Linked DNA regions of Homo sapiens. The protein of the gene in region 5 interacts with the protein of the main gene of each other region in a biochemical or structural test. Each region holds a gene or a part of one and is shown on either strand. Other genes may lie near its edges. The genes, in order: PTPN18, PRR16, ARHGAP17, KIF17, MAGI3, IQSEC2 and NCBP2L.

Region 1 (4,414 bases), on a different chromosome or scaffold from region 5:
GGGTCATGCCCCTTCCTGATCTTCTTTCTTGAATCTGCTCTGTGCAGCCTCACCAGCCACTATACCCTAGCTACCTCCTCCAGCCTCAAGCCTTGAATGCTACAGTCATTGGGGCAAAGCCCCCACATTTCCCACCCTGAGAAACTTTAACTTTGATCCAGGCCCACTGTTTCCATTCTGCGCACGGCGCTCAGCAGCACCGGGGCATCAGCAGTCCGAGCTCACAAGAGGCAACAGGCAGGAACTGGCGTTAGACTTACACCCGGGTCCACTCAGCAGGCGGGTCCCGGGGACCCTTCGGCCTCCCAATGCGCAGGTTGAAACCTGGGAGAAGAAGGGTGCCGTGGGTCTCATGGAGAAGCTGAGGTGTGTGGAAGCTGGCAGACATGAAGAAGGCCATCCCCCCGCCTCCAGGTCCTCCTGGTTCACTGCAGCCACATCCACAGGACTAAGCTCCATGCCCCATCAACCCCAGACTCCTGGGTTCACTCAAAGCAGCAAAGTCCCAGCAACCCAGGCTCTACCTGACTTACCTAGCCCACCGGTCTGAGCTCCACCCGCCACGTCCTCGTAGGCGCCAGATCCGGCAGGACTTTGGTCAGCAGGAACTGAGGGCAGCAGACCCCCCACGGGTCAGCTCCGGAAGCCCCAGGGAGTCCCAAGACCCCACCCCTAGCGGGGACGCTTCCCCGGAGGCCCGAAGGGGAGAGCCGAGGGCGCCGGGCGGGAGAAGGCACACACCCCGGACGTGGCCTCCAGCCTTTGGGCGCGGCCAAGACAAGTATTGCCAGGAACCCTGCCCCTGGACCGCGACTGCGACCGCCAGGGGGCGCTTCCGGGGCGTGGCCAGGGACGCCTGGACATCAGCGTCGGGGCGTGGCCAGGCTAGCGGCTGGGGTCCCCGCGGCCGCCAGGGCCTGACGGACCACTGCAGGATGGTTCCGCCCTGCGGATCACAGCAGGATGATGCCCTGAGAAGGAGCAAGCCTCGACTCACCGCGGCCAGGCAGCGTCCCCCTCGCGTCCTCCGCGTGCGCCCCGGGTCGCTGGGCGCGCGGCGTCACCTTGCTGTAGAGCGGCGCCTCCTCCGCGCTGCGCGCCCCCGTCCCCGTCCCCGTCCCCGTCTGCGTCCCACTCCCGGCGCCCGCTGGAGCCCCGCGCTTCTGCACCACCGCGTAGGTGTCAGCCATGGCGTGGCCCGGGGACCCGGGCACAGAGATGCTCCTGCAGGCAGGGAGGGCCGGGAGGAAGTGAAACGGCGGCGCTGGGCAGGGCGGGAGTGGGGAGGCTGCTCAGCGCGCAAACCACGGGCTTCCTTCCCGCCGAGGCGGTGCGCTAGATGGGAGGGAGGGCTCCTTGGGTTGGAGGCCTCGCTTCTGTGTCCCTAGCGCCCTGCAAGTTAGGGGGATGAAGGAGGAACGGGGTCAGCCTGGAGGGTAATTTGGGGCAGAGTGTTGGTTTGAGGGGTGGTCATTTCTGTGTCAACGTCTACTGAACAAAAGAATGCGGAAGTGGCATAGAAGACAGGAAGGGATGGCCGCAAGGACAAGGGCCTTAAGTCTCCGCTGCGAAGGCGGCTCAATCCCATGTCCGCAGCACCCAACGTGCGGCCTGACAAGAAGGCGGCGTCTAGAATTATTTGCTGAATTTTTTTTGTTGTTTTTTTGAGACAGGATCTCGCTCTGTCGCCCAGGCTGGACTGCCGTGGTGCGATCTCGGCTTACTGCAACCTCCACCTCCCGGGCTCAAGCGACTCTCCTGCCTCAGCCTCCGGAGTAGCTGGGATTACAGGCTCTCACCAGCACGCCTGGCTAATTTTTGTATTTTTAGTAGAGACAGGGTTTCACCATGTTAACCAGGCTGGTCTCCAGCTGGGCTCAAGTGATCCGCCCTCCTTGGCCTCCCGAAGTGCTGGGATTACAGGGGTGAGCCACCTGAATTAAGGTTTGATTAGAGGATCCAGGAAAGGCCTAACTCAGAAGGCAGGGCAAGCCTTAGAGGCAGAGGCAAGGGGTAAATGAATCATCTTGGGATAATTGAATCATCTTGGGGTGGGTTCCCAGAGCTCAATTCGAAGAAAGGGCCAGCGAACACTTGGCGAAGTGAACAAGGAACGGACTGGTGTTCCAAGGATGAAGAAGGGGTTAGCCTGAGAAATTGGGCAGGGAAGAATCCGGGGATGGAGCCGGGTACCTGAGGACCCCTCCTGGTGGGCGGGGTATGGCGAGAAGTGCCTGGGGAGTCCGGAGGAAGAGGGCATCGTCGTAGAGTGGGGCACAATTCTGAAGAAAAACAGGAGGGGAGGCTCCTGAGGGAGGAAGCTGGCCAGGCCTCTCAAGGGGCTCTGGGAGAAAGCTTAAGATGGGAGAGCCTGATAAGGATGCCTGGAGGAGGGCACAGGTGGATGTCATAGTCAGTGCCTGCTCCCAGTAGTCCCGGGGGCTGGACCCTGCTCGGGGTCCTGGTCTCTGAGGGTGCTGATGGTGGACAGGAGAGTGGGAAAGGAGCCTCTGTACCTCTTTGATGTTCTGGTAGTGGGGGCTGGCATTCTGGAGTGTGGAGCAGAACATCTGAGCCACCGTGTGGTACAGGAACCTGTACTGCTCCTGTTGGGGTGAGGGACCATCAAGAAGGGAAGGCAGGGGCAAATGACAGCAGTGGGCCACTGTCCCTGAAGATTAGGAGACCCAGGGTTCACCTCTGTCTGCACGGCCGCAGGCCGCTGCTTCCTCATCTTAAGGACCACATCAAAGAGACTGAAGTCAGGTGGGATCATCTGGGGCAGACAGACAAGGCACTTGAGCAGGACACGTGGTCATGGGCAGCACACTGCACACACAGGATGCCTGTATCGTACCTGGGTCAGGAGCAGCTGCCTCACATAATCCACGGTGCACAGGACGCCTGTTCGCCCACAACCCGCACTGACAAGAGAATCAGAGTGTGCCTGGTCAGGTCCTGACCACAACCCCTTTTAGATGGGGCATTTGGGGATGGGGGTGAGGGTCCTGATGGATCCCCTGCAGAGCCTCTTGATTCCCAGAATCTTCAGATTATATCTGAACAAGGAAAACCTTTTTAATCACTTACATTTTGTTGAGCAAGAGCTGTGTGCTTATTCCCCAGCTGAGTCTGTGCTGAACAAGTGCTCACAATTACAGTCCATGGAGGGTGAGCAAGGGTTCTCAAAATAGGCACTCAGACTACAAGACTAGCCCCATGCCCTGTACTCCCCTCCATGCTCTGTCCCCTCTGCCTCACCAGACCCTCCTGAAGCCCATTTCCAAAACCTGCAGTGGACACAGAGGGGTTCAGGGCCAGATCCCTGGAGGCGACGGGCTTCCTCCACCATGGCGAGCATGTGGTCAGGACTGCTGGGGACCCCACGGTCTGGCCAGGACATATACTGTAGCTGGTACACAGAACGGGACTCCTGAAACACAGAAAAAGATGAGCAAAAGACTTAGGAAAAAAAAGAAAAAAGCATTAATTGGCCATCTACTATACACCAGGCCCACTTCTAGGCATCTTCCATTTATGTCTACCAGACAATAACTGAGGAAGTGGGTACTAGTATGATGCCCATTTTTACAGGAGAGGAAACCTCTCCCCTTTCAGGAGCCCCTTTACCTCCTCCTCCCCTGTCACAGTACCTTCTGGAATGTGACCTTGAGGGTCCTGAGCATGATGTCCTCATTCAGCCACTTCTCCTTTATCTGAGTAAGGGGGGTGGGGCAAGTAAGAAGAGGGAGGAGAACAAAGATCATAGGTACCAGAAGACATTTATAGAAAGCAAAGCATTCCTGATTAAAAAATCAAATACAGAAAACATTTTAAAAATTCATATAGCCCAAACTTTCCCCAAAGCTTTCATTAAGGAAACATTTGACACAGGAGCAAAAGAGGAACTATTATAAAAACACAAGCCCTTTTGCAATGAAAAGAGATGTCTTTTGTTCTAAAATGAAACTTTTATTGCATTTATTAAGTACTAACTGTATGTATGACTTGAGAGAGTTCCCCAAGCTCTTTTGAAATGGTAAGAGAAGTAAGAATTTCAACAACCTAACCAGGCACATTTACATGACAGAGATTAACTGATTGTAGCCAAAATAAAAATGCAAAGGCTATCCCTATAGTAAGTTCTAACTATTTGCAGGCTAACACCAGAGGGTTTCCTGCAGTATGAGTGGACTGTGGGTTAAATCATTCAACCTTTTAGGCCCAACCCAAAGCCTTTCCACCCTGGGAATCTTCCTTGAAAACTCCCACAGCTCACCAGAGTGATGCAGAAAAGCCCAGTCTGCAGTGGCTCCTGCTCCTGGGCCCAGTACCGCTCACACCTTTTCTGCAAAAGGTAAGGGAGAAAAGGCAGGGAGTGAGAAGAGGGAGTCAGCTTCAGAGCTAGCTCAAT
Region 2 (4,414 bases), on a different chromosome or scaffold from region 5:
TGGAAGTGGTGGATGGAAATTGGAAGGCATATTTTTAAAGTAGGTTGAATTAAGGGAAAAAGAATGAGGTAAATGTAAAGAAAAATACAGATAATGGGTTTTTTTTTTAAAAAAAAGATAGCAAATACAAGACACAAAAGAGACATGAAGTCTGAATGTTTGATGGCTAAGCATAAAGAAAGAAAAAGGTAGGTAGCAAAAACAATATTAAGTAATATGGAATAAGATGGAAGAGCAAGAGCAGTAGTTCTCAAAGTAGTCCTTTGGGTTCCTAGTTCTACTATTGCAAAGTAGGAAGAGGACATGTGGCATCATCTAGAAACATTTTCCATTGTCACATTAACATTTTGGTTGCTACTGGCATCTAGTTGTAGATGCTGCCAACCATCCTACAATGCACAGGACAATCCCCCCAACAAAGAATTATCCACTCAATATGTCAATAGTGCAGAGTTTGAGAAACCCTGAGCCAGTGATTAAAGGTAAAAAGATGAAAGTATAGCAGATTTAGTCACCTCCCTGCTCAGAAGTCCCATTTTACTCTAAGGAAGAATCAAAATCCTTAGACATGTCCCCCATATCTATCTGACCTTATCACTGCTACTCTTGCCCTGCTCGTCCACTCCTGCCACCCTGGGCCCTTGTTCTGCTGCAAATGCATGGGAAACTTGTCCACTATAAGGCCCTTGGGCTGCTATTCCCTACTTGGGAAAATGCTCCCCTAGATTTCCTTACTGCTTGCTCCTTCACCTTCAAGCATTTTCCCCAATGCCACCATGCCACTTTCTCAGTGAGGCTTATTCTGAACAATCCTATTTAAAATTGCACTTCCTCCTCATCACTATTCATCCCATTATAATCTTCTATTACTTCATAAGATAAATCACCTTCTAATATTTGATGTAAACTAGTGTTTATTTTACTGAGCTATCTTCTCCCTACCCTCCCCATCCACTATGTAAACTCCATGAAGGAATTTTGTCTGTTTTGTTCCCCACTATATCCCTAGAAACTAGAACAGTGCCTGGTGTACAGTAGGTGTTAAACACTACTTGTTGAATAAATGAATAAAGGGGCTCAGACAAATTCAAATAATAACACTAATGACAGACACACATACAATGCTTGCTTTATGCATAGGAACCATTCTAAACGTTCTACAAAGAACTCATTTAATCTTCATAACCAACCTATACTGCACATAACACTGTCACTATCGCCACACTATGGAGAAAATGAAAACAGAGAGAAATTAAATAATGTGCTCAATATTGCACAGCAGAGCAATTTGAAAAAAAGCAGACTGGCTTCAGAGTTTGTGCTCTCACCCTTCTATACTATGCCACCTTACTGAGCAACACAGACTAAAAATTCTCCTATTCTTTAAAACAAAAGATAACCCCAAATATTTATCAAAAACATTGAGCTATGCAATAAAGAGGCAATCAAATTTATACTTCATTCTATATATAATTGGATAAACATAAATATACCTCTGATATTTGGGCTTTAAAATTACAAAGTTATGTCAATTCATAATAGCCTACAGTGTTATCACTGTCATCAAAAGTAAACAGAAAATAGTTACTTCAAGGGCAGATCACTAAGCTTATTCATATATGCATCTTTTACTTTCTTCAGCACAGTGACTTACACATATCAAGAATTCAATATGTCTTTCATAATTCATGTTAATGTGACATAAGAAAAAAATAAAACAAATAAAAATGCTGATCTGCAATCAGTTTTAAGAAGAGAATATGCTTAATTTACAATGAGTTCTGAAAACTTTTTGTCCATCTATTTACTGATATACTATGGCAAACATCATAAGAAACGACAAAATGAAAGAGTTAACTTTCAGACACACAAGCATTCTACAGCTTTTGCAAAGTCGTGAATTATAAATATACCACCTATTTTCACACTGACATCACATCCTAAGAGAAAGAAACTGTTGATATGCCACTCATTTTTTTCCCCTACATAAAAAACATCAAACCACAGCCATCAGTATTTCTTTTTTTTCTTTTTGTAGGGCCAGGACTTTTAATTCTGAAAATTATGGAGCCAAACCTCAAACAATTAGCTAAAATTTCTAAAAAATAAAATGGCAATCAACCACTTGTTTTGTCTCTTTACCTGAGTCATTCCCACCCACCCAAGATTCCCTGAACATGTGCAGGAACCACGTTTGTGTGAGCTTTTGTTCCAGAAGAAATAATCCCAACTTTTTTTCCTTTTTTCAAAGGGGTTTGTGATATGGGGGGAGGGAGACTATTAAGAACCACTGATGCTAGAAGGCAATTGATTTGACTGATATTGTTTAACCCAGTATTTTTCTCTCATATAAACACACAGTTTGAAATCTTGAGATAAGGTGATATTATGAAAGGGGAAAATGCACACCAATGTATCTGTTAACATTTGTGTGGTACTACAAAAAGAACCTGTCAGAAATCATCAAATTTTCTTTTTCCAGACAAGGATAACATATGTTATCTGTAGTTGAAAATCTATTTATAGTGTCCCAAACATCATGATAACTGTGTCATTGAGCATAAGTATGTAATTTGCCTAACTTCAATTATTCTACAAGTAAACATTTATCTCAAACACCAATCTGAAGCAGCATTTGCAAAGTAGAAAGAGAGAAAACAAAGATGATGAATATAAATTCAGTCCTAACAGTGTTAATATTTCTTGCCTGAAAGTGAGGTCTGGGAGTTTAAATTCTTTGGAATCCTCATGTCTTTCCATTCTAAATAAATAAATAGCTTATCCCATATAAGCAAGACAACATTTGTCCTGAGTTGACAGACTACCTTGTGAGTCTACTTTGATTTGGATATTAGATATGTCTTTATTTTCTCATTTCAGTTAATGCTACTTTCTGGTTCTTGTTTAAAGATGAATTTCTGCTGACTTTGGGTTCCCAGTTCCTGTGGGAAATTTAATTCAGAGTAATTATCCTAATGAACTAACTTTTAATACAATAAAAACATTTCTATTCATAACATACTGGAAAAGAAAACAAACAATTTTAGAATAAGGCCATTTCTTATAACCCTTATATGTGGGAGAGAGGAGGTGGTTTATAATCGATAGCACTAAAGTTAATACAAGAAATCGAATTATAATATATACATATGACATCATTAGCCAGTTCAATAATGTTGTTCCTAGTAAAGAATTCAACAAGATTCTCTAATTCATCAGTCATAGCAGAAAGCAAGAGAACTGTCAAACCTCAAACATCTCAGAAAACTTAAGGATAGTGCCTCTCTTCTAAGGTAATTTGATAGCAACAAAAGAGAATAATATATTCCAAATTATTTGTATTCTTTGAAACAATTATATACAATGCTAAGTATCAACGAGCTTCCATATTAGTTGTTCCTTTATTTTCTCAGCCAGAATATTAAAAATCTATGTAATATTCTTATCAACATTTTTGTTGAATAAGTTAAAGGTAATTAATCACAGCACATCTTTATTTGCAAATTTTAAATTGCAAGGTCTAATTTATTCACTATTAATTTTGTCTCAATACTGTTTTCTGCAACCTACAAAAATAATGACTGTTACCATGAAGATAATAAACTACACAGCAAGCCTTAATGAAATAATGAAATGGTTTATTAGCTTCACTCCCAATTTAAGAAACAGTGTCCATACATACGCTGCTGCTGCAAGCAAAAATTTGTGAAAACTCCCTGGAAGACAGTTTGGCAATATGAATTGAGAATTTTAAAGCTTTTAGATCCTTGACTTCTAAGAAAATGTTAAAAAAAAAATAGGAAACGTGAAAGAGCTTGGCGGTTAATGCTGTTCTTTGACACCAAGCTACCTGGCAATGAAGCTTCACTTCTCCACTTACAAGACAAGTGAGTTGGGCAAATGACTTACTATCTCGGACCTCAGATTTCTTATGTGTAAAATGGGCAATATCAGTAACTTCCTCATCTACCTGTTTTGAGAATTAGATAATTTAATATAAATAAATGCGCTGAGAAGAGTACCTGGCAGAGAGTAAGACCTCTGTTAGATATTCATATTGCCAAAACTGCTCTTTCTAGTGACGTTTAATAACCATGAAAAGCTGGAAATAAATAGAATACCCAATATTAAGGGAAGTATGAAGTAACTTATAGCAAATCTGTGTAATAGTTACGATCTATATCATTCAAGAAAGTAGAAAATGTCATTGCTTATAATTTATAACTTTGTATAACTTCATCTATGTTAAAATATGCATACAAAAAGACTAAAAGAAAATATGACAAAATGTTTAGTATACTTATTTTTATGTGGTACTAAAGATAATTTTTGTTTTCTCCTTTATATTTCTTTAGATTTTTGCAAACTTTCTATAATATTCATGTGCTGCTCCTAACATCAGAAAAAATAAATT
Region 3 (3,898 bases), on a different chromosome or scaffold from region 5:
ATATGTGAATGTCATGCCCATCGTGTTTTGGTTTATCAATTTGTGGAATTCTAGGTGGTGTCTTGCAGTGAGATATTCTCCTCAGAAGGGAGACCTTTGAGTACTTTCACTGTAAGGTTCCAGGGGAGGGACTTGTAGAGAATTAGTAATGCCTGGAAGGAATGAGTTCGCATGATGCAGTTTGTTTACGATGGGTGGGTAAGTCTATTTGAGAAGACGGCCTGAAACTCACAGGGGCAAGGCTTATGAGGTGGTCTCATGGTGTGAGTGTCCCAAAGAAGAGAAGTAGGATGGTTCTTTTAGTCCACCTGCCTTTTGTTGATTCATGCATTCAACAGACACTTGTTGAGCCTACACTGTGTCCTGTTATCCAGGGTATTAAAGAATCAAAGGTGAATACGGGCATGGTTTCTGCCCTGAGGGAGCTCAGGAGATACGTGGAAGAGGTAGGCAGGCAAAAAATAATTATATACATGAGATAAGTGCTTAAGAGGGATGGCTAATGCACAGAGCAAAACCCAGCTGTCATTGGATTGAGGGAGGTAACAAAAGCTTCCCAGAGGAGAAAATCTGAGCACCTTTCTCTGCCTTCATTTTCAAGCCCTTATTTCAAATATCTCTTGTATTGATTAGGTCTCTTTTGGTTGTAAGAAAACCCAGTTCATAGCAAAGACGGGAATTGATTGGCTCATAAGTGACCAAAAGAGCCTCTAATAAGTAGTGTGGCTGCAGATTTGGCTTCTTCTGGGGGTTCCACTCTTTTTTTTTTTTTTTGAGACGGAGTCTGGCTCTGTCACCCAGGTTGGAGTGTAGTGGCGCGGCTCACTGCAGCCTCCACCTCCTAGGTTCAAGCAATTCTCCCGTCTCAGCCTCCCAAGTAGCTGGGACTACAGGCCTGTACCACCATGCCCGACTGATTTTTGTATTTTCAGTAGAGATGTGGTTTTGCCATGTTGGCCAGGCTGGTCTCAAACTCCTGCCCTCAGATGATCTGCCCACCTTGGCCTCCCAAAGTGCTGGGATTACAGGCATGAGCCACTGCGCCTGGCCTCGGTTCCACTCTTTAGGTAGGCACTGTGTCCACTGGGAGACTTCCACATCTTCCAAGTCTCAGAGGGAAAGAATACTCATCTCGCAGTCACTGTGGCCCGAGTCCCAGGATTGGCTCTGAATGCTTCTGGGTCACATGCCTTTCCCCAGAAATGGACTGGAGTCAGCGCACCCAAACCATATGGACTGAGAGTGGATGGTAATGGGTGGTAATCAGGCAAGAAATAAAGGTCATGGTGTGTCTTTTGTAGCCCTGCTAAAAAGAGAGATGTTTTGTTTCTTGAAAACCCTTAGATGCAGATCATCACCAATGGTGTTTTTGGGGAGATGATGTCTTGAGTAGAGGAAGGAGTACACTGGGATGAAGACCTTGAAGTTACAGAAGTATCAAGGAGAAAAAAAATTTGAGAGACAACTAGGAGAGCATAGTACTGAGGCTCTGATAGGGAGTGTCTCCTTGGGTGTTGATTTCTTCCCTGACTGAAGTTTCCCTTGGAGGTCTGAATGCTTTCACAGATAGTTGTTTTTTGAGAACCCAAGGTTGTAAACCCAAATGCCTAGAGGGCGAGGCCAGTAAAATGAATCAGTGCTTTGGGCCATGTGAAGGCCTCAGGGGACCTGGAGGACTGTGTCCCACCAAAGGGGCTGCTGTGGTAATGTAGGCCCAGTGTGGACCACCTGTGGAGTTTTCCTGAAATCTGCATTTTAACTAGCTGGCGTTTAATCCAAATTAAACTACGGGGACACTATATGCAGCTGAACAAAATATTTCTGTGGATCACCCAACTGCTTGTCTAGAAGGACTCAGAAATTGACAGTCCCTCTTTTTCATTTATTCCCCTGTACCTTACCCTGATGTTTTCAGTTCTTTGGATTTGTTGAAAAACAGCTCATCCTTTCTTTACTAAAATCTTGAAAAGGTCTGATAGTAACAGTCTATAACATTTCTATGGTGGTTTAGTTTACAAAGTGCTGTACTAAACCACCTGGCTTGGATTTCGTCTCCTGACAATGATAACTTCTCTCTGACAAAGATGGAAACCTGGCTGGGTGGGGTGGGGTGGCTCACGCCTGTAATCCTGACACTTTGAGAGCCCGAGGTAGGAGGATCACTTGAACCCAGGAATTTCAGACCAGCCTGAGCAACATGGTGAAACCCGGTCTTTACAAAAAATACAGAAAACTAGCCAGGAGTGGTGGTGTTTGCCTGTCTCAGCTGCTTGGGAGGCTGAGGTGGGAGGATCAACTGAGCCTGGAAAGTCGAGGCTGCAGTGAGCTGAGATCATGCCACTGCACTCCAGTCTGGGTGACAGAGCAAGACCCTGTCTCAAAAAAAAAAAGAAAAAAAAGAGGAAGAAACCTGACTTTCTAAGTTTGCACAGTTACTGAGTAGTGGCTGAGGCATGGCTTGGGTCCAGGGCCTCTTCCTGTGGTTCCCAAGTGCTTTTGAGTACAGGAACTGGGCTGCCTCTTCACCAGGGAAGGATTAGTGTTTATTAATGTTTATTAAACATCTTCTGTGCTTATGAAGCTGCTGGGCTTGGTGCTTTGCATACTTTTATTTCATTGCATTCTCATAGCCACCCTCTGAGGTGATGTTACTTATTTCTGATTTAATGATGAGGAAGCCAGAGATCAAAGAGGTCATCAAGCTCGCAAGAGACAGAGCCGTGGACCCAAACCCAGGTTTCTGATTCTGCAGCAGCTATAAATTCTGATCACAGAGATCTAATGACCTCTAGGAGTCTTCCACTCCTAGGAGGTATGTAGAATGGACCACTCACTAGGTAGTTGGATCCACTACCAGCAATGTGAATTCTCACACTGAGTCAAAATGTGTCTCTACCTACTGATCCCAGAACAGTCCCCTGCTGCCGAATTGAATGAATCTCATCTCTCTTCCCTGAGTCAGCCCTGCCTGTATTTGATGATCACAAACCTTATCCTTACGTTGCCAGCAGTAACATTCTGCATCCCTCACCCACTCCACTGTGTCCTTTTCCTCCCACTGATCTTCACTCTACCTTTCCTTCCCCCCACCCTTTTTTTTTTTTTTTTGACGGAGTCTCGCTCTGCCGCCCAGACTGGAGTGCAGTGGTACAATCTCGACTCACTGCAACCTCCACCTCCTGGGTTCAAGCGATTCTCCTTCCTCAGCCTCCCGAGTAGCTGGGCTTACAGGCATGAGCCACCAAGCCTGGCTAATTTTTGTATTTTTTAGTAGAGATGGAGTTTTGCCATGTTGGCCAGGCTGGTCTTGAACCCCTGACCTCAGGTGATCCACCCACCTTGGCCTCCCAAAGTGCTGGGGTTACAGGCGTGAGCCACCACGCCTGCCCACTCTGCCTTTTCTAGGGGAACTCTGAACAGTATTTCTGAGAAGGGATAGGTAATGTGTGCTTTGCTTCAATCTGAGTGGATTCCATCAACCTCTCCATAGAGCAGGGTGGAAAGAGGTCCTCTTGTCGTTGCAGCAGCTTCTCAATCTCATCTTTTATGGCCTTATTATGTAGTTTACATGTTAAGAAATCCAGAAGTATTTATAGTTGAGTGAAAATCCATTCTTTACTGGGGGGAAGAAATGAACTCTAAAACCATAAAAATGATGAACCAGTAGAAAATTTTCATCTGTAAATTTGAACCATAAAAGGATATGTTCATTTAGCATCATTTTTATATGTGTAAGCGGCATGTTACGCTATTATGGAATTGCCTTTGTAGCAGAGTGGACGAGGCAAAACCTTCCAAGTTTGATTATGGCCTAGGGCGCTGCAGTCAGTACGTGCACCGTGCATTTTTGTCAGACCACAGGATGTTTCACCTTTATCATTCTATTTCAGTTTCTCAA
Region 4 (3,500 bases), about 93 Mb from region 5:
GCAAGGATGAGAGAGGGGAGCATGGCAGGAATGTGTCCATCGCTGCCACGGGGAGGGGAGCCCTTGACACTTTGCCTGGACATGGGTGGGAAGAACCCGCTGGAGAGGCCCCCTCAGGCCTCACCAGATCAGGCAGTTCAGGGCTGGGTTCTGTGATGGTAGTTTACAGTGGCTAGGGGGAGGGGATAGAACTCTGCTTCCCCAAACCTCTTGCTGGCCTTAGGTGATGTAATAACCTCTGATTACAACCACGATCGGGCCTGTGTTAAGCACGGGTTAAGAGTGTGTGCTGTGGAGCCCCCGGGTTCAAATCCCATCGCCACTCTTTACTGACTGTGTGTCCTTGGGTTGGTCTTACTTAGGCACATGGAGCCTCAGTTTCCTCATCTGTTGTTACAAGGAATAGGAACGGTGCCTCCTCCTGGACTGCCAGGAGGTTTACATGAGAGCCATCTGCACATCCTCCACGAGGGAGCGTGTCTAAAGCCCGGTGACCTCTGGAGTGTGTTTCAGCAAGCGCATCTGTCACTGCAGCCCCCAAGGCAGCTGGTTCAATAGGCCTGAGACCCATGGCTCAGCTGCAGCAAGTGTGAGCAGCTGCCAGCCTTCGGCCCCTCTAGGCCCGGGTAACTGAGGCCTTTCTAGGGTCCAGGGTAGTGACGAAGGGGAGGAGGGCTCCCTGCTGCTCCAGTGCGGGTTAGCAGAAGGTTTGCAGGGGGCCAGAGTGCCCTAACTCCACAGGCTGGCCTTCTGGGGCTGACATGTGGGAGCAACACCCTCTGTTGCCTCCTGTCTCTGCTTCCCTGTCTGGGGGCTGAGCTATGATTCAGCTGCACTAGGAGAGGGAACGCAGTAGAAAAACTCTAGGTGGGAGGCTGGAGGCTCCTGCATAAAAAACACCAAGTGGCTGGGTGCATGTGGTGGTGCATGCCTGTAGTCCCAGCTACCGGGGGCGCTGAGGTGGAAGGCTCAAGGCCAGGAGTTCGAAGCCAGCTTGGGCAACGCAGCGAGACCTTGTCATATATATATCTATATTATAGATATTATCTATATTATATATATAGATAATATTATCTATATATATATCTATATATATCTATATATATATAATATAGATAATATCTATATATATAATATAGATAATATTATCTATATATAATATAGATAATATTATCTATATATAATATAGATAATATTATCTATATATAAAATTATATTATATCTATATATATTATATATATAAAATTATATTATATCTATATATAATATAGATAATATCTATATATAAATAGATAATATCTATATATATAATATAGATATTATCTATATTATAGATATAGATAATATTATCTATATTATAGATATTATCTATATATAATATAGATAATATTATCTATATTATATATATAATATATCTATATTATCTATAATATTATCTATATTATCTATATTATATATATATTATCTATATATAGATACTATATATAATATAGATATATATATTTTGAGACGGAGTCTCACTGTGTTGCCCAGGCTGGAGTGCAGTGGCACAATCTCAGCTCACTGCAACCTCTACCTCCTGGGTTCAAGTGATTCTCCTGCCTTAGCCTCCCCAGTAGCTGGGACTGTAGGCATGCACCACCACGCCCAGCTAGTTTTTGTATTTTTAGTAGAGATGGGTTTTCACCATGTTGGCCAGGCTGGTTTCGAACTCCTGACCTCAAGTGATCTGCCCACCTTGGCCTCCCAAAGTGTTAGGATTACGGGCAAGAGCCACTGCACCTGCCTAAAAAAGTTTTTTTTAATTAAAAAAAAAAAAAAAAGTCCCGACTCTAGCCTCCCAGTGCCGGCACCCTCAGGACACTTTCCCATATTTCTGAGGGAGCAGCACCAATGCCAACCTCCCCCCTACCAGCCCCACCTGCCCACAATGGGTCTGCACCCACCTCCAGCTTCTGCTTGGTGTCAGCCCCAAGGAGGTCCCGGACATCTTCATTGTAGATCTCCAGGTAGGAGGCCCGGACCAGGAACTTAGTGTTCTCTGCACACTGCAGGGAGTACACAGAAAGAACCTAGACCTCAGAGCTCGAAGTCCACCTGCTGCCAGGTCTGACCCTGGGGCCTGGGCCCTCTGCCACCAGGACATCATGGGAGGAGAAGGGACATCGGGGCAAGAGGAGTCTCCAACCCAACCCGCCCTGCTGGCCTTCCTGGCAAGCTCTCTCCTGTCTCCAGCTTGGTGGGCGCTCAGGCCTCTTTGAGTTGCATAATCTTCATATTGCTGTCTAATGCTCTGTCTACAAGCCTCATGGGAAAGGAAACAGAGGCCTCCTCGTTATTCAGGTTAAAAACAAAAACAAAAACAAACAAAAAACAAACAAAACAAAACAAAAAAAACAGGGCGGGGCGCTGCTCATGCCTGTAATCCCAGCACTTTCGGAGGCCTAGGTGGTTGGATCACCTGAGGTCAGGAGTTCGAGACCAGCCTGACCAACAAGGTGAAACCCCCGTCTCTACTAAAAATACAAAAATTAGCTAGGCCAAGCGCGGTGGCTCACGCCTGCAATCCCAGCACTTTGGGAGGCCAAGGCAGGCACATCACAAGGTCAGGAGATCGAGATCATCCTGGCTAACACGGTGAAACCCTGTCGCTACTAAAAATACAAAAAATTAGCCAGGCATGGTGGTGGGTGCCTGTAGTCCCAGCTACTCAGGAGGCTGAGGCAGGAGAATGGCGTGAACCCAGGAGGCGGAGCTTGCAGTGAGCTGAGATCACGCCACTGCACTCCAGCCTGGACAACAGAGCGAGACTCCGTCTCAAAAAAAAAAAAAATTAGCTGCGCATGGTGGTGGACACCTGTAATCCCAGCTACTCAGGAGGCTGAGGCATGAGAATTGCTCGAACCCGGGAGGCAGAGGTTGCAGTGAGCCAAGATCGCGCCATTGCACTCCAGCCTGGGCGAAAGAGCAAGACTCCGTCTCAAAAACAAAAACAAAAACAAACAAAGAAAAAGTGCGGTGGCTGACACCTGTAATCCCAACACTTTGGGAGGCCGAGGCCAATGAATCACCTGAGACCAGGAGTTCAAGACCAACCTGGCCAACATGGCGAAACTCCATCTCTACTAAAAGTACAAAAATTAGCCAGGTGTGGTGATGGGCGCCTGTAATCCCAGCTACTCGGGAAGCTGAGGCAGGAGAATTGCTTGAATCTGGGAGGCAGAGGTTGCAGTGAGCCAAGGTCATGCCATTGTACTCCAGCCTGGGTGACAGAGCAAGACTCCGTCTCAAAAAAAAAAAAAAAAAAACACCTGAGGCCACAGGGAAGGCCTGGGCCAAGCACTGGCTCTGGGCTGGTCCCTGGCAGCTCTCCAAGGCCCTACATGTTGCTGTGGCCACCATGATGAGTCCTGAGAGTGGCACAGTGGGTTCTGCAGCTGATCAGGGTTGTCCCCATCCGCCATTCCCCGTGCACTGCCACAAATGGTCGCCAGGTAATT
Region 5 (4,414 bases):
TGTATTGGTTATTCTAGTTATACATTCGTCTAAATTTTTTTCAAAGTTTTTAACTTCTTTGCCTTTGATTTGAATTTCTTCCTGTAGCTCGGAGTAGTTTGATCGTCTGAAGCCTTCTTCTCTCAACTCGTCAAAGTCATTCTCCATCCAGCTTTGTTCCGTTGCTGGTGAGGAACTGCGTTCCTTTGGAAGAGGAGAGGCGCTCTGCTTTTTAGAGTTTCCAGTTTTTCTGCTCTGTTCTTTCCCCCTCTTTGTGGTTTTATCTTCTTTTGTTCTTTGATGATGGTGATGTACAGATGGGTTTTTGGTGTGGATGTCCTTTCTGTTTGTTAGTTTTCCTTCTAACAGACAGGACCCTCAGCTGCAAGTCTGTTGGAGTTTGCTAGAGGTCCACTCCCTACCCTGTTTGCCCGGGTACCAGCAGCGGTAGCTGCACAGCAGCGGATTTTCGTGAACCGTGAATGCTGCTGTCTGATCGTTCCTCTGGAAGTTTTTTCTCAGAGGAGTACCCGGTCATGTGAGGTGTCAGTCTGCCCCTACTGGGGGGTGCCTCCCAGTTAGGCTGCTCAGGGGTCAGGGGTCAGGGACCCACTTGAGGAGGCAGTCTGCCTGTTCTCAGATCTCCAGCTGCGTGCTAGGAGAACCACTGCTCTCCTCAAAGCTGTCAGACAGGGACATTTAAGTCTGCAGAGGTTACTGCTGTCTTTTTGTTTGTCTGTGCCCCGCCCCCAGAGGTGGAGCCTACAGAGGCAGGCAGGCCTCCTTGAGCTGTGGTGGGCTCCACCCAGTTCGAGCTTCCCGGCTGCTTTGTTTACCTAAGCAAGCCTGGGCAATGGCGGGCGCCCCTCCCCCAGCCTCACTGCCGCCTTGCAGTTTGATCTCAGACTGCTGTGCTAGCAATCAGTGAGACTCCGTGGGCGTAGGACCCTCCGAGCCAGGTGCGGCATATAATCTCCTGGTGCGCCGTTTTTTAAGCCCATCAGAAAAGCGCAGTATTCGGGTGGGAGTGACCCAATTTTCCAGGTGCCGTCTGTCACCCCTTTCTTTGACTAGGAAAGGGAACTCCCTGACCCCTTGCACTTCCCGAGTGAGGCAATGCCTCGCCCTGCTTCAGCTCGCACACGGTGCGCTGCACCCACTATCCTGCACCCACTGTCTGGCACTCCCTAGTGAGATGAACCCGGTACCTCAGATGGAAATGCAGAAATCACCCATCTTCTGCGTCGCTCACGCTGGGAACTGTAGACCGGAGCTGTTCCTATTCGGCCATCTCGGCTCCCACCTGTTTAGTTTTTTTGTTTGTTTGTTCGTTTGTTTGAGACCAAATCTCACTCTTGTCATCCAGGCTGGAGTGCGATGGCAGAATCTCGGCTCATTGCAACCTCCGCCTCCTGCGTTCAAGTGATTCTCCTGCCTCAGCTTCCTAAGTACCTGGGATTACAGGCGCACGCCACCATGCCTGGCTAATTTTTTTTCTTTTTTTGAGATGGAGTTTTACTCTTGTTGCCCAGGCTGGAGTGCAGTGCTGCGACCTCGGCTTACTGCAACCTCTGCCTCCTGGGTTCAAGCAATTCTCCTGCCTCAGCCTCCTGAGTAGCTGGGATTATAGCACATACCACCACACCCAGCTAATTTTTTGTATTTTTAGTGGAGACAGGGTTTCATCATGTTGGCCAGGCTGGTCTTGAACTCCTGACCTCAGGTGATCCACCTGCCTCAGCCTCCCAAAGTGCGGGGATTACAGGCGTGAGCCACCGCGTCTGGCCTAATTTTTTTGTATTTTAGTAGAGATGGGGTTTCGCCATGTTAGCCAGGCTGGTGTCGAATTCCTGACCTCAGGTGTACTGGGATTACAGGCATGAGCCGCTGCGCCTGGCCTGAGCCACCACGCCCAGCCAGTGGCTTCTTAAACTCAAGAAATAAGGTGGTATTTAAAGATAGACTGACCCTGTCAAAAAGTGGACAAAGGATATGAACAGATACTTCTCAAAAAAAGACAATTATGTGGCTAACAAGCATATGAAAAAAAGCTCAACATCGCTGATTATTAAAGAAATGCAAATCAAAATGACAGTGAGATATCATCTTACGCCAGTCAGAATGGTGATTATTAAAAAATCAAGAAACAATAGATGCTGGCAAGGCTGTGGAGAAACAGGAACGCTTTTACACTATTGGTGGGAGTATAAATTAGTTCAATTAATGTGGAAGACAGTGTAGCAATTCCTTAAGGATCTTGAACCAGAAATACCATTTGATCCAGCAATCCCATTACTGGATATATACCCAAAGGAATATAAATCATTCTACTATAAAGACACATGCACACGTATGTTTATTGCAGCACTATTTACAATAGCAAAGACAGGAACCAACCCAAATGCCCATCAATGATAGATTGCATAAGGAAAATGTGGTATATATACACTATGGAATACTATGCAGCCATAAAAAGGAATGAGATCATGTCCTTTGCAGGGACATAGATGAAGCTGGAAGCCATCATCCTCAGTAAACTAACACAGAAACGGAAAACCAAACGCTGCATGTTCTTATAAGTGGGAGTTGAACAATGAGAACACATGGACACAGGGCCGTGAACAACAAACACCAGGGCCAGTCGGGGGTTGGGGGACGAGGAGAGGGAGAGCATTAGGACAAATAACTAATGCATGTGGGGCTTAAAACCTAGATGACGGGTTGATAGGTGTAGCAAACCACCATGGCACACTTATACCTATGTAACAAATCTACATATTCTGCACTTGCATCCTGGAACTTAAAGTAAAATTTAAATATATATATATTTATATATGATATATTTTATATATCATATATATAAATATATATAATATTAAATATATATATGATATATAATATATATACACTATATATGATATATATAATATATATGATATATAATATATATGATATATATAATATATATGATATATTATATATGATATATATAATATATATGAGATATATATTATATATATGATATATAAATATATATGAGATATATATTATATATATGATATATAAATATATATGAGATATATATAAATCTATATATATATCAGGGGTGGAGGAGGATTTCTGGCTATAGGGGCTATAGGAACTTGACAGGATTCTTGCTGAATGCAGGCTGAGGTGATCAGGTAATCACCTGGAGAATGGTGGGGAATGAGGACTTAGATCATATATCAAGAGTGGGTGATTCTGGCTAAACCAACTTAGCAGGATTCCTGCTAAAGCTGGGCTCTGGAGGACATGCCAAGGATGAGGCCTACTGAAAAAAGAGCTCAGAGGAACCTGTCTAGAGTTTGGTTAAGGACAGCGTCTTTTTCAGTGTATGTATATATACATACATACAGATATATAAATAAAATTAATTTATTCAAAAAATATAATACAGTTTGTACAAGTAGTCAGTGGAGTTATTTGCTTCTGTACTAAATACCTACTGCAATGTGCCTAGCTTTGCATGGATACTTAGATATGACTCAGAGGGTATACTAACAATGATAATATAAATTATCAGGGTTTTTTTTTTAATGATTCACTTGAGCTTGAAGTCAAAATTCTTTGCTACTGAAATAAGTAGGATTTTAGACATTTATACATACATTTTAGAGAGGAGTTAGAAAAGGGAGAAGGTCTGTGTTAGAAATCTATCTTTTCAGCAGTTAATAGAGGTTTCCAAAATTCAAATTTAGTTGCTAAATTGTAGTTATTTTTGCCCCTCTAGCAAAAAAATTAACTTATTTGTTGATTTTAATATTTTTAACATGATTATGTTTTTCCAGGCGATGTTATTGTAGACATCAATGGCAACTGTGTCCTCGGTCACACTCATGCAGATGTTGTCCAGATGTTTCAATTGGTACCTGTCAATCAGTATGTAAACCTCACTTTATGTCGTGGTTATCCACTTCCTGATGACAGTGAAGATCCTGTTGTGGACATTGTTGCTGCTACCCCTGTCATCAATGGACAGTCATTAACCAAGGGAGAGACTTGCATGAATCCTCAGGATTTTAAGCCAGGAGCAATGGTTCTGGAGCAGAATGGAAAATCGGGACACACTTTGACTGGTGATGGTCTCAATGGACCATCAGATGCAAGTGAGCAGAGAGTATCCATGGCATCGTCAGGCAGCTCCCAGCCTGAACTAGTGACTATCCCTTTGATTAAGGGCCCTAAAGGGTTTGGGTTTGCAATTGCTGACAGCCCTACTGGACAGAAGGTGAAAATGATACTGGATAGTCAGTGGTGTCAAGGCCTTCAGAAAGGAGATATAATTAAGGAAATATACCATCAAAATGTGCAGAATTTAACACATCTCCAAGTGGTAGAGGTGCTAAAGCAGTTTCCAGTAGGTGCTGATGTACCATTGCTTATCTTAAGAGGA
Region 6 (4,414 bases), on a different chromosome or scaffold from region 5:
TCCAGAGCTTGGGTGCTTCCGGCCTCCTACAGCCCCACCTCCCCACGGAGCTCATAGAAACACGTGTCTACTGGCCTCCCCTCGTCTTGGGCTACTAATCCCTCTCTCAGGATTTCCCCAGGGTCTCAAAGGATCTGGTGAACTGAAATTTCTATCCCTGCCTCGCTGAGAAGTAGAGTGGCCCTGGAGCTGTGAAGGCCTCACCAAGGAGCTGTCCGCCGCCTCGTCTCTGTCTGCCTGCCTCTTTCTCCTTAACACCATGTTACTTAACTGTGACTGCTTAGCCTGGAGAAGAGAAAACTTGGAGGGCATCGGGAGGAATGAGATGTAATCACTATTTTCCATTATATATATATGATCAAAATGACTTGGTGTGGCCCCTGGGGGCTGAGAGGATAGCCCACTGGGATTCAGCTCAGGAATTGATATGTGGGCAGAGGAGGAGAGAGGGTGGGACAGGAAATACGGATTTTTTGAATGCCTAAGATGTGTTGGGACATTTCGGCTACCTTGTCTCATTTCATCTCCATGACTCTGTGAAGGAGACTTCATTACCCCAATTTCGTATAGGAAGAAACTGGGGCTTGGCAGGTTAGGCAATTTGCTGCAGTTCACCCAGATAATGAGTAGTATACCTGGGATCTAAAACTATAGTCCTACCTCCAATACTCTGATTCTTCTCCCTGATACCTTTCACTAGAAGGAATAGTTGGCTCATAATTAGAGTTCAGGATAATAATGGGGTTGGGAGGTAATGAGCCCCTTGTCACTGAAGGTATTCAAGCAGAGGCTGAAGAATTCTTGAAATGAGGATGGGAAGGTTGGACAAGCTAACCCTCAACTCTGAGATTCTCTGAGGATAGGATTCTTGGTTTCTGCAGGGTACTGTTTCAGGAGAGCAGGGAGGAGACATGGCTGGGCTACTCACACTCCACACGGTATTTCTCCATCTCCTGCACCTCCGCAATGGACTCGCGCAGGTCGGATGTAAAGCGCAGCCGGTCCTGGAGGCTGGGGGCATTGAAGATGATGAGGACTTTTCGCTCCCCACCAGGTACTGCAGACAGCAACTTGATCCCAAACTGGTAATCTGTGGAGAAAGGGGAGACTGGGCACCTCTGTTGGGACTGGTGCAAGGTGGCTCATACATAAAATAATTTTTCTTTTCTGCTCTTTTTTTTCTGAGACAACATCTCTCTGTCACCCAGGCTGGAGTGCAGTGGTGCCATCATGGCTCACTGCAGCCTTGAACTCCTGGGCTCAAGTGATCCTTCTGCCTCAGCCTCCTGGGTAGCTGGGACCATGGGCACGCACCACATGCGCAGATTTTTTTTTATTTTCAGTAGAGATGGGGTCTCACTATGTTGCCCAGGCTGGTTTCGAATTCCTGGGCTCAAGCGATCCTCTTGCCTTGGCCTCCCAAAGTGCTGGGATTACAGGTGTGAGCCACCATGCCTAGCCCATGAAATAATTTTTCTACTGTCTAACTCTGATCATGCCTCTTCTCTGCTTGAGCATGTTTAGCAGCTCCCCTTTGCCCCAAAGCCCTCAAACTCCTGGTAGCTGTGGCCCTCTTACTCCCTGTACTGCAGGATGTAAAGGCACACAACTATGCACTGCTCTCTCGAAACCCTTTCCTTCTCACCTCTGCCTCAACTCACATTGCTTCTGCTGCCAGGAATACCACGCAACAAAGCTCCTCCTGGTTCATCCTTCAGAGCACAGCATGATCACCGTCTCTTTGGCCCACCAGAGAACACATGCACTGTGGTTCTCTGCAAGACCATGAGCTAACCAGGGGCTAGACCCAAGTCATACTCCACCCTGGCCTGCCCCTCATCCTGGGACCAAGTAGGTGCTTTGGAGACCCTTAGTCCGGTTGTAAGGGACTCCGAAAACTGGAGCTGGTATAGATGACGGGTGAGCATGGGGGCCATGACATAGACTCTCAGGAGCTGGGATCCAAGAAGGGACTCACATGAATTCTGGAAGAGCTGCATGTGCATTTCCACGAGGGGGAAAGACTGACGGAAACTGTACGTCACCAAGATCTTCTTCTTCTGGAAAATTTTGGTGACCTTTGGCAGGGGTGGGAAAAAGACAAGAGGCAGCGCTTTGGGTGGGGGATTTCCACGTGGCACCTATTTCTGGTAACCACCCTCCCCTCCCACCCCATTAACAGACACACACACACAAACACACATGCCCACAAGCTGGGGAGAATGGAAGCTTGAGGGACAGAATGGGAGACATGGAAGAAAACGCAAGTTCCTGATGTAATGACCACGCACCACAGACATTTACCACATTTCCAGAAACTAACTGAATCCTGCTTCCTCCAGGAAGCCTGCTCCAACATCCCACAGAGATTTGTAAACCCCTTTTCTGAGCTCCAGAATGGTGATTCAGTGCCTTTCCCTTGTCAGGCACTATGCTAGTCCTCTGAGTGTGTGATCGCCCCCTGCTGGACTGGAGGGCAGGAGTCTGGTTGTCGGGTTCTGTCACCAGGCCTTACCAGAGCCTGCACTTAATGGCAATCTCTGCTGAACCCATGTAGAGAGTTAATAAGTCTTCCTCTCAACAACCCAATATCTTTGTCGAGTACTTGGGCACTCTGGACTCAACTAACACAGGCTGCAAACACCTCAGGCGGTCTGCAAGTGGCTCGTAAAAGGAAATGTTTTGATTTCAGGATGGCACAATGACGCAAAGCACTTTTTTAGGTCCTTTGGGCTGTGAGCTCCCTGAGAACAGGGACTAAGTCTGATTCATCCTGGCATACCCAGTGCCTAGCATAGAGCTGGACATACACCAGTTTCAGTACCTGAGGGATGTCTACACATTGACTGTGTGGGCCAGGTACTCCCTGGGGTAGGGCAGATTCCACATATAACCTCTTATTTCATTTCATCCTCATGACAATCCTGTGAAGTAGGGGTTAGTTCCATTTCACAGAGGAGGAAACTAAGGCTCAGAGGGAGCATGGAAATACTTCGGCTAAAGCAGCAATGCTCAACTGGGGGTGATATTGCCCCCAGAGGACACGGAGCAACATCTGGAGACATTTTTGGTTGAAGGGTTGCTACTAGCACCTAGTAGGTAGAGACCAGGGTGCTGCTAAACATCCTACAGTGCACAGGACAGTCCCCGCAAAGAATTATCCAGCCCCAAATGTCAACAGTGATGAGACTGAGAAACCCTGCTCTAAAGGAGAGAAGACCACAGGGAGAACAGGATCAAGAGAGTCCTCAAATCCCTGGAGAGCTGTCTTGGAGCAGAGGTACAACACTTGTTCTTTGTGATGCCAAGGGTTGAGTGCAGATGGCTGGAAGAAACCCACAGGGAGACAAATTCTAGCAGTCAGAGCTGCCTAACAAGGCAACTGGCTGCCTTAGAGGAAGGCGGCTTTCTGTCCCTGCAGTCATACATCCAGTGGGCCATCTAGGAAGCTGGACCCTGAAAGTCCCTTCCAACCTGCAAAGTCCTAAGAGTCCCATCCCTAAAAGACAAACATCTCTACTTGTAATGAGCTCAGTTTGAAGAATCACTTCAAGCATCTTTTTTTTTTTTTTTTTTTGAGACAGAGTTTCACTTGTCGCCCAGGCTGGAGTGCAATGGAGCGATCTCAGCTCACTGCAACCTCCGCCTCCTGGGTTCAAGCGATTCTCCTGCCTTGGCCTCCCCAGTAGCTGGGACTACAGGCATGCGCCACTGCGCCCAGCTAATTTCTTATATTTTTAGTAGAGACGAGGTTTCTCCATGTTGGCCAGGCTGGTCTTGAACTCCTGACCTCAGGTGATCCACCCACCTCGGCCTCCCAAAGTGCTGGGATTACAGGCATGAGCCACCGTGCCTGGCCCAAGCATCTTTTTTAAATTTTGTTTTTATTATTTATTTATTTATTTTTGAGGCAGGGTCTGGCTCTGTTGCCCAGGTTGGAATGCAGTGGTGCGATCACAGCACACTGCAACCTCTGCCTCCTGGGCTCAAGTGATCCTCCCGACTCAGCCTCCCAAGTAGCTGGGACTACAGGTGCACACCACCATGCCCGGCTAATTTTTGTATTTTTTGTGGAGACAGGGTTTCGACATGTTGCCCAAGCTGGTCTCAAAACTCCTGGGCTCAAGTGATTCAAACTGCCCTGGCCTCCCAAAGTTCTGGGACTATAGGTGTGAGCCACAGTGCCGAGCCCACTTCAAGCATCTTGATTACTGAAGATTTCCAGACTGACCTGGGGGGTCGCAGGTTCACCCCTCTTCACACAACCCTATGGGCTATTGAGGTGGACAGGGATATTTCCTACCACTTCCCAGGTTGTAAGTCTGTCATCTCCTTTGGTCCTCATATTTTCTGTCCCTGTGTGTCTGTTACTACCTCCAAATGCATCTGTGAGGAAAAGGAGGGGCAGAGAAGG
Region 7 (4,414 bases), on a different chromosome or scaffold from region 5:
ATTCACTATTCAAAAAAGTAAATACTACGTAAATTTTTTGTTAAAAAAGCTCAGGAATCAGGTCCTTTAGAAAGTTGTTTTCCCCTCCTCATCCTCCTCTGTAGTTTTGTACTCCCTTCTTTGTGCTACCTCTGGGCCTACTGTGTGCTCCTGTGATTAGAATAATTACATTGCATTGCAATTTGTATGTTAAGTTGTCCATCTCCCCAGATTGTGAGCTACCTGAGGGAAAGGGCTGCATCTTACTTTTTATTGTTTCCCCAGAATTTAACATAGTGCTCTATAAATGTTGATTGAATGAATGGAGAAACAAGTGAAGAGAAGAATAAAGTAGAGGATGCCCCACATTATAAAACAAAGCTCCCATGCCAGTTATCTTTCCCAATATCCATCAATCTGTCCTTTTGCCACGTGTTGAGCTTGAAAGTAATACTTTACATTTATACTTTTTTTTTTTTCTGAGACAGGGTCTCACTCTGTCACCCAGGCTGGAGTGCAATGGCACAATTATGGCTCACTTCAGCCTCGATCTCCTGGGCTCTAGATCCTCCTACCTCAGCCTTCCAAGTAGCTGGGACTATAGTCACATGCCACCACGCCATGCTAATATTTGTAATCTGTTGTAAAGATGAGGTTTCACCATGTTGCCCAGGCTGGTCTTGAACTCCTGGGATTAAGCAATCCACCTGCCTCGGCCTCCCAAAGTGCTGGGATTGCAGGCGTGAGCCACTGCACCCGGCCTTACATTTATTCTTAAGTACTATCCATCAATTATCTTGTCAATTTGGGCTCAGCATCATGTAAGACTGCCCAGATCATTTCAAAGTCCCTCTTATTTTTGTGTTATGTGTAGATTTGATATGTATTTGTATATCCTATTTTGAATCACTTGATCAGAATATTGATACAATACCTATTGCTTATTGAACACCTACAGTGTGTCAAACACTGTGCTGGGTGTTTTTACATATGACATTGTCACAGTATTTGTTGCAAGATAGGTATTTTGCTCTCCAGTTTACAGATGAGAAGATTGAAATCAGTATTGTTAAGTGCCCTGCCTAGGGTCATATTGCTAGTAAATGGTGAAGTTGAGATTTGAACCAAGGTCTTTTGACTTCAAAATTCATGCTTGAGTCATAACACTACATTGATTCAAAGGGGCATCTCCACTGCTTCACTACTGGGTGCCTAGCTCAAGGCAGCCCATTGTCTTTGGACTGCTCTGACCATTTTAAAAGCTCTTGTTTGTAGTGAGCCAAGTTATAAATGAGCCAAACAAGACATGGCCAATAACAGAGCCTTTGGCTCTCTGCTAGAACCTTCCTTCCAGTCTGACACCAAACCATGTGTTCGCTTCTTTGGCTATAGTTGTTCAACTAGTTATAGGCTCATCTCAACAAATGCCTGAAGCATCCAGCTTATATTTTGCCATCTCATCTACAAGGAAATTATGGCAAACTTTGTCCAATGCCTGGATGAAATGAAATCCACTATAGCTATCACATTCTCTGGTAGCTTATCTAGTAACCAGATCAAAAAAAAAAAAAAAGGAAATGAAGTCTAGGAGGGATATTTGTTTTTTAACGGGGCAATTTGTCAATGACTTAAAGTAATGAGTTTCCAGTGGTATACTTTCAGACATCCTTGACAGGCTGTCAGGAAGATGATTTTTGGCCAGTGGGCTTCCTACTTCTCTTCAAATGACATCTAAATAGGGACTCCCATTTTCATTGCTTTGAATTGCACAGCACTGTTGTTTACATCTGGTTTTATTTAATCTTCCATTTCAGTTTTCTGGGCTTTTATTTTTTCTTTGTGTTCTGCCCTTGCACATGTTCCCTCTGCCTGGTTCATTCCCTAAACTCCTACACCCCCCAGCCCTGCAACACACACATATACATACCTTCCTTGTCCTTTGAGAATCAGTGCATGCAGTCCCTTCTCCAGAAGCCTTCTCTGTTGTCCCCAGGCTGAGGTAACTGCTTCTCCTCTTGGGTGTTGTAGTGGCAAGTGAGCACAGTGCCTGTCACAAAGTAGATCCCCAATAAATGTTAACTCCCTTCTCCCCTTCCTCCATGAATATCTCTAAAATAGTATTGATTACACCATATTGTATTTTCATGTTTACTTGTTTGCCTTCATCACTCAATTATGAGCTCATTCATTCATCCAGTCATTAACAAATATTTATTGTGTGTCTAAGGTGTACAAGGCATTGTTCATGTAGGTACTGGGGACACAGTGATTTCTGAAAATTGTATTTTCACTGTGTCTTTTCATTGTTGTACTTATAGCACCTGTCATAGTGTCTGGCAAGTAGAGTGCTTATTAAATGTTTGTTAAGGGAATGCACTTCCTTAGCAGAGTTTCTCAAAGTGTAATCTTTGGACCATTTGCATCTGGATCATTGAGGGGTGTAGGTTAAAATGTTAATTCTTGGGTCCCTCTCCAAACCTACTGAATCAGAATATCTTAAGAGTGGGCTGCAAGAATCTGTATTTTAATCTCGTTTTGCGGTGTTTCTATCATGCTAAAATTTGGGAACCTCTGCGAAACAGAATAGAAATAGGGAGACCCAGTGCCTCCCTATATATGCCTCCCTATAATAACATTGAAAAGTGTAGCTAAAACCGACTAAATCGTGTTTAATGCCTCCGAATGCTGCAGTAAATTTTAGTAAAAGAGAAAAAGGAATTAATTAAAATTGTCTAGAAAGGTTAATTACTATTTACCTTTTGAACAAGTGGAATTATTGCCAATAAAATCTAATCTTAATTTAGGTCAAATTTATGATACCAGAGAGTTTTCATTTCTAAAGTGCTACTTGTATATTTGATGGTATATAGGGACCCATTGTGTAACCCAACAATACAATATATTGATTCCATGTTATAGACTTGAATTGCAAATTAAGAAAGAGTATGTCCAAACTGTACTTGTGCTTTAACATTGATTATATATGTGATTTATCTGATGCTTAGTCCTTAATCAGAATTGTTAGTGCTCATTCTCTGTGCAAATTTGATCCATTTAACTGTTTTATGCCATATTTTCCAAGAACATGCTGTTATTAAAAGTGCTCTTTGGTAATAGATCAGGCATATAAGATCTAAGTCTCAACCAAAGACAGCACAACTTCCCTTTCAGGAAGACTTGACAAATTGGATTTTATGACCATGTTTTGGGGATTGGAGCTGTCTATTTTTAGTGTGCCTTGACATGATCCTTATGGTCAGGAGCTGAAGTGTTCTTGTATCTGAACACAAATATGTTAAATATTCACAGGTTTATACTTCTGTTTCCCTCCTTTTGACTTCCCTCTTTTTTTCAACTCAACTTAGGTTTTCAGTGGTGGTGTCACTGCTGCCAAGCTGGACCGAAAACGGCCATCGGCATGCTGCCCAACCAGCACCATGTCCAAAGACCTGAAAATTCTATGTAAAGACCCTGCTTTGGAGCTGAGCTGCTACCGGGACCATCAGTTCAGTGGCCGTAAATTTCAGCAGGAAAAATTACTGAAGGAAAGCTCCACATTGAATATGGGGAATCTTTCCTTTTATACAACCGAAGAGAAAATACATGAACTCTTTAGTAGATCTGATATCAGGAATATCTTTATGGGCCTGGATAAAATAAAGAAAACAGCATGTGGTTTTTGCTTTGTAGAATGCCATAACAGAGCTGATGCTGAAAATGCCATGCGGTTTCTAACTGGGACCTGCCTAGATGAATGGATTATCTGCACTGATTGGGATGTCGGTTTTAGAGAGGGTCAACAGTATGGTCGCGGTAAATCTGGGGGTCAGGTAAGGGATGAGTTTCGTGAAGATTTTCATTCTGGTAGAGGAGGCTTTGGAAGACAGACTCAGATCTAGAACAATCCATAGAGAAAAAGTTTTAACTCTAACCCCTTGAAAAGTGTGTTATAGACCAACCTCAAGTCTGCAAATAGCCAATTCCAAGTTTAAATTACCTTACTTGTTGATGTATTTTTTTCTCTGAAAATTTGTTAAATAGCAGAAACAAAAAAAATCCATTTGTTTTTGTCTGAATTTTGAAGATGCTTTTCAGATTACCAGTTTGACTGTTAGGTGGTCCAAAGTGAAGTGTTCTTCGGGAACAAATTAGGTATGTAAGATCAGAGTCAACCAAAGCACAACTTCCCTTTTAAGAAGATTTCTGTTGGATTCTATGGCCATGTTCCTGCAGCCCAAAATTATAATTTTTTTTAGAGCTTGCATAAAATACAGTCAAATAAGTGGAAATTTTAAAAAGTTATCAAGAGAAACACAAGCACTATTATTTGAAACCATAGAAAAGTCTGGAAGAATTTGTAATAAAAACAAAAATCCTCCTGCCCCACCTCTTCCTATCCTACGCCTATTCCCTGGACGATAACGCTTAATTATTT

Evidence for each region.
Region 1: the proteins of MAGI3 (region 5) and PTPN18 interact in a test that uses a peptide from one of them, tested with the Homo sapiens proteins (one large-scale study listed by IntAct).
Region 2: the proteins of MAGI3 (region 5) and PRR16 interact in a test that uses a peptide from one of them, tested with the Homo sapiens proteins (one large-scale study listed by IntAct).
Region 3: the proteins of MAGI3 (region 5) and ARHGAP17 interact in a test that uses a peptide from one of them, tested with the Homo sapiens proteins (one large-scale study listed by IntAct).
Region 4: the proteins of MAGI3 (region 5) and KIF17 interact in a test that uses a peptide from one of them, tested with the Homo sapiens proteins (one large-scale study listed by IntAct).
Region 6: the proteins of MAGI3 (region 5) and IQSEC2 interact in a test that uses a peptide from one of them, tested with the Homo sapiens proteins (one large-scale study listed by IntAct).
Region 7: the proteins of MAGI3 (region 5) and NCBP2L interact in a test that uses a peptide from one of them, tested with the Homo sapiens proteins (one large-scale study listed by IntAct).

The regions. Positions count from the first base shown.
Region 1 is NC_000002.12:130,369,067-130,373,480, reverse strand, and holds part of PTPN18 (tyrosine-protein phosphatase non-receptor type 18), read right to left. Parts: intron 4,349-4,414; coding exon 4,280-4,348; intron 3,717-4,279; coding exon 3,654-3,716; intron 3,434-3,653; coding exon 3,291-3,433; intron 2,925-3,290; coding exon 2,858-2,924; intron 2,777-2,857; coding exon 2,699-2,776; intron 2,607-2,698; coding exon 2,517-2,606; intron 2,283-2,516; coding exon 2,194-2,282; intron 1,225-2,193; coding exon 998-1,224; intron 609-997; coding exon 534-608; intron 325-533; coding exon 257-324; 3' UTR 1-256. UniProt on the Homo sapiens protein: Differentially dephosphorylate autophosphorylated tyrosine kinases which are known to be overexpressed in tumor tissues.
Region 2 is NC_000005.10:120,470,292-120,474,705, reverse strand, and holds part of PRR16 (protein Largen), read right to left. Parts: intron 1-4,414. UniProt on the Homo sapiens protein: Regulator of cell size that promotes cell size increase independently of mTOR and Hippo signaling pathways. Acts by stimulating the translation of specific mRNAs, including those encoding proteins affecting mitochondrial functions.
Region 3 is NC_000016.10:25,008,575-25,012,472, reverse strand, and holds part of ARHGAP17 (rho GTPase-activating protein 17), read left to right. Parts: intron 1-3,898. UniProt on the Homo sapiens protein: Rho GTPase-activating protein involved in the maintenance of tight junction by regulating the activity of CDC42, thereby playing a central role in apical polarity of epithelial cells.
Region 4 is NC_000001.11:20,711,508-20,715,007, forward strand, and holds part of KIF17 (kinesin-like protein KIF17), read right to left. Parts: intron 2,049-3,500; coding exon 1,947-2,048; intron 1-1,946. UniProt on the Homo sapiens protein: Dendrite-specific motor protein which, in association with the Apba1-containing complex (LIN-10-LIN-2-LIN-7 complex), transports vesicles containing N-methyl-D-aspartate (NMDA) receptor subunit NR2B along microtubules.
Region 5 is NC_000001.11:113,638,102-113,642,515, forward strand, and holds part of MAGI3 (membrane-associated guanylate kinase, WW and PDZ domain-containing protein 3), read left to right. Parts: intron 1-3,809; coding exon 3,810-4,414.
Region 6 is NC_000023.11:53,237,217-53,241,630, forward strand, and holds part of IQSEC2 (IQ motif and SEC7 domain-containing protein 2), read right to left. Parts: intron 2,079-4,414; coding exon 1,979-2,078; intron 1,091-1,978; coding exon 929-1,090; intron 301-928; coding exon of another isoform or gene 281-300; exon of another isoform or gene 1-280. UniProt on the Homo sapiens protein: Is a guanine nucleotide exchange factor for the ARF GTP-binding proteins.
Region 7 is NC_000023.11:107,790,805-107,795,218, forward strand, and holds part of NCBP2L (nuclear cap-binding protein subunit 2-like), read left to right. Parts: intron 1-3,344; 5' UTR 3,345-3,416; coding exon 3,417-3,878; 3' UTR 3,879-4,414.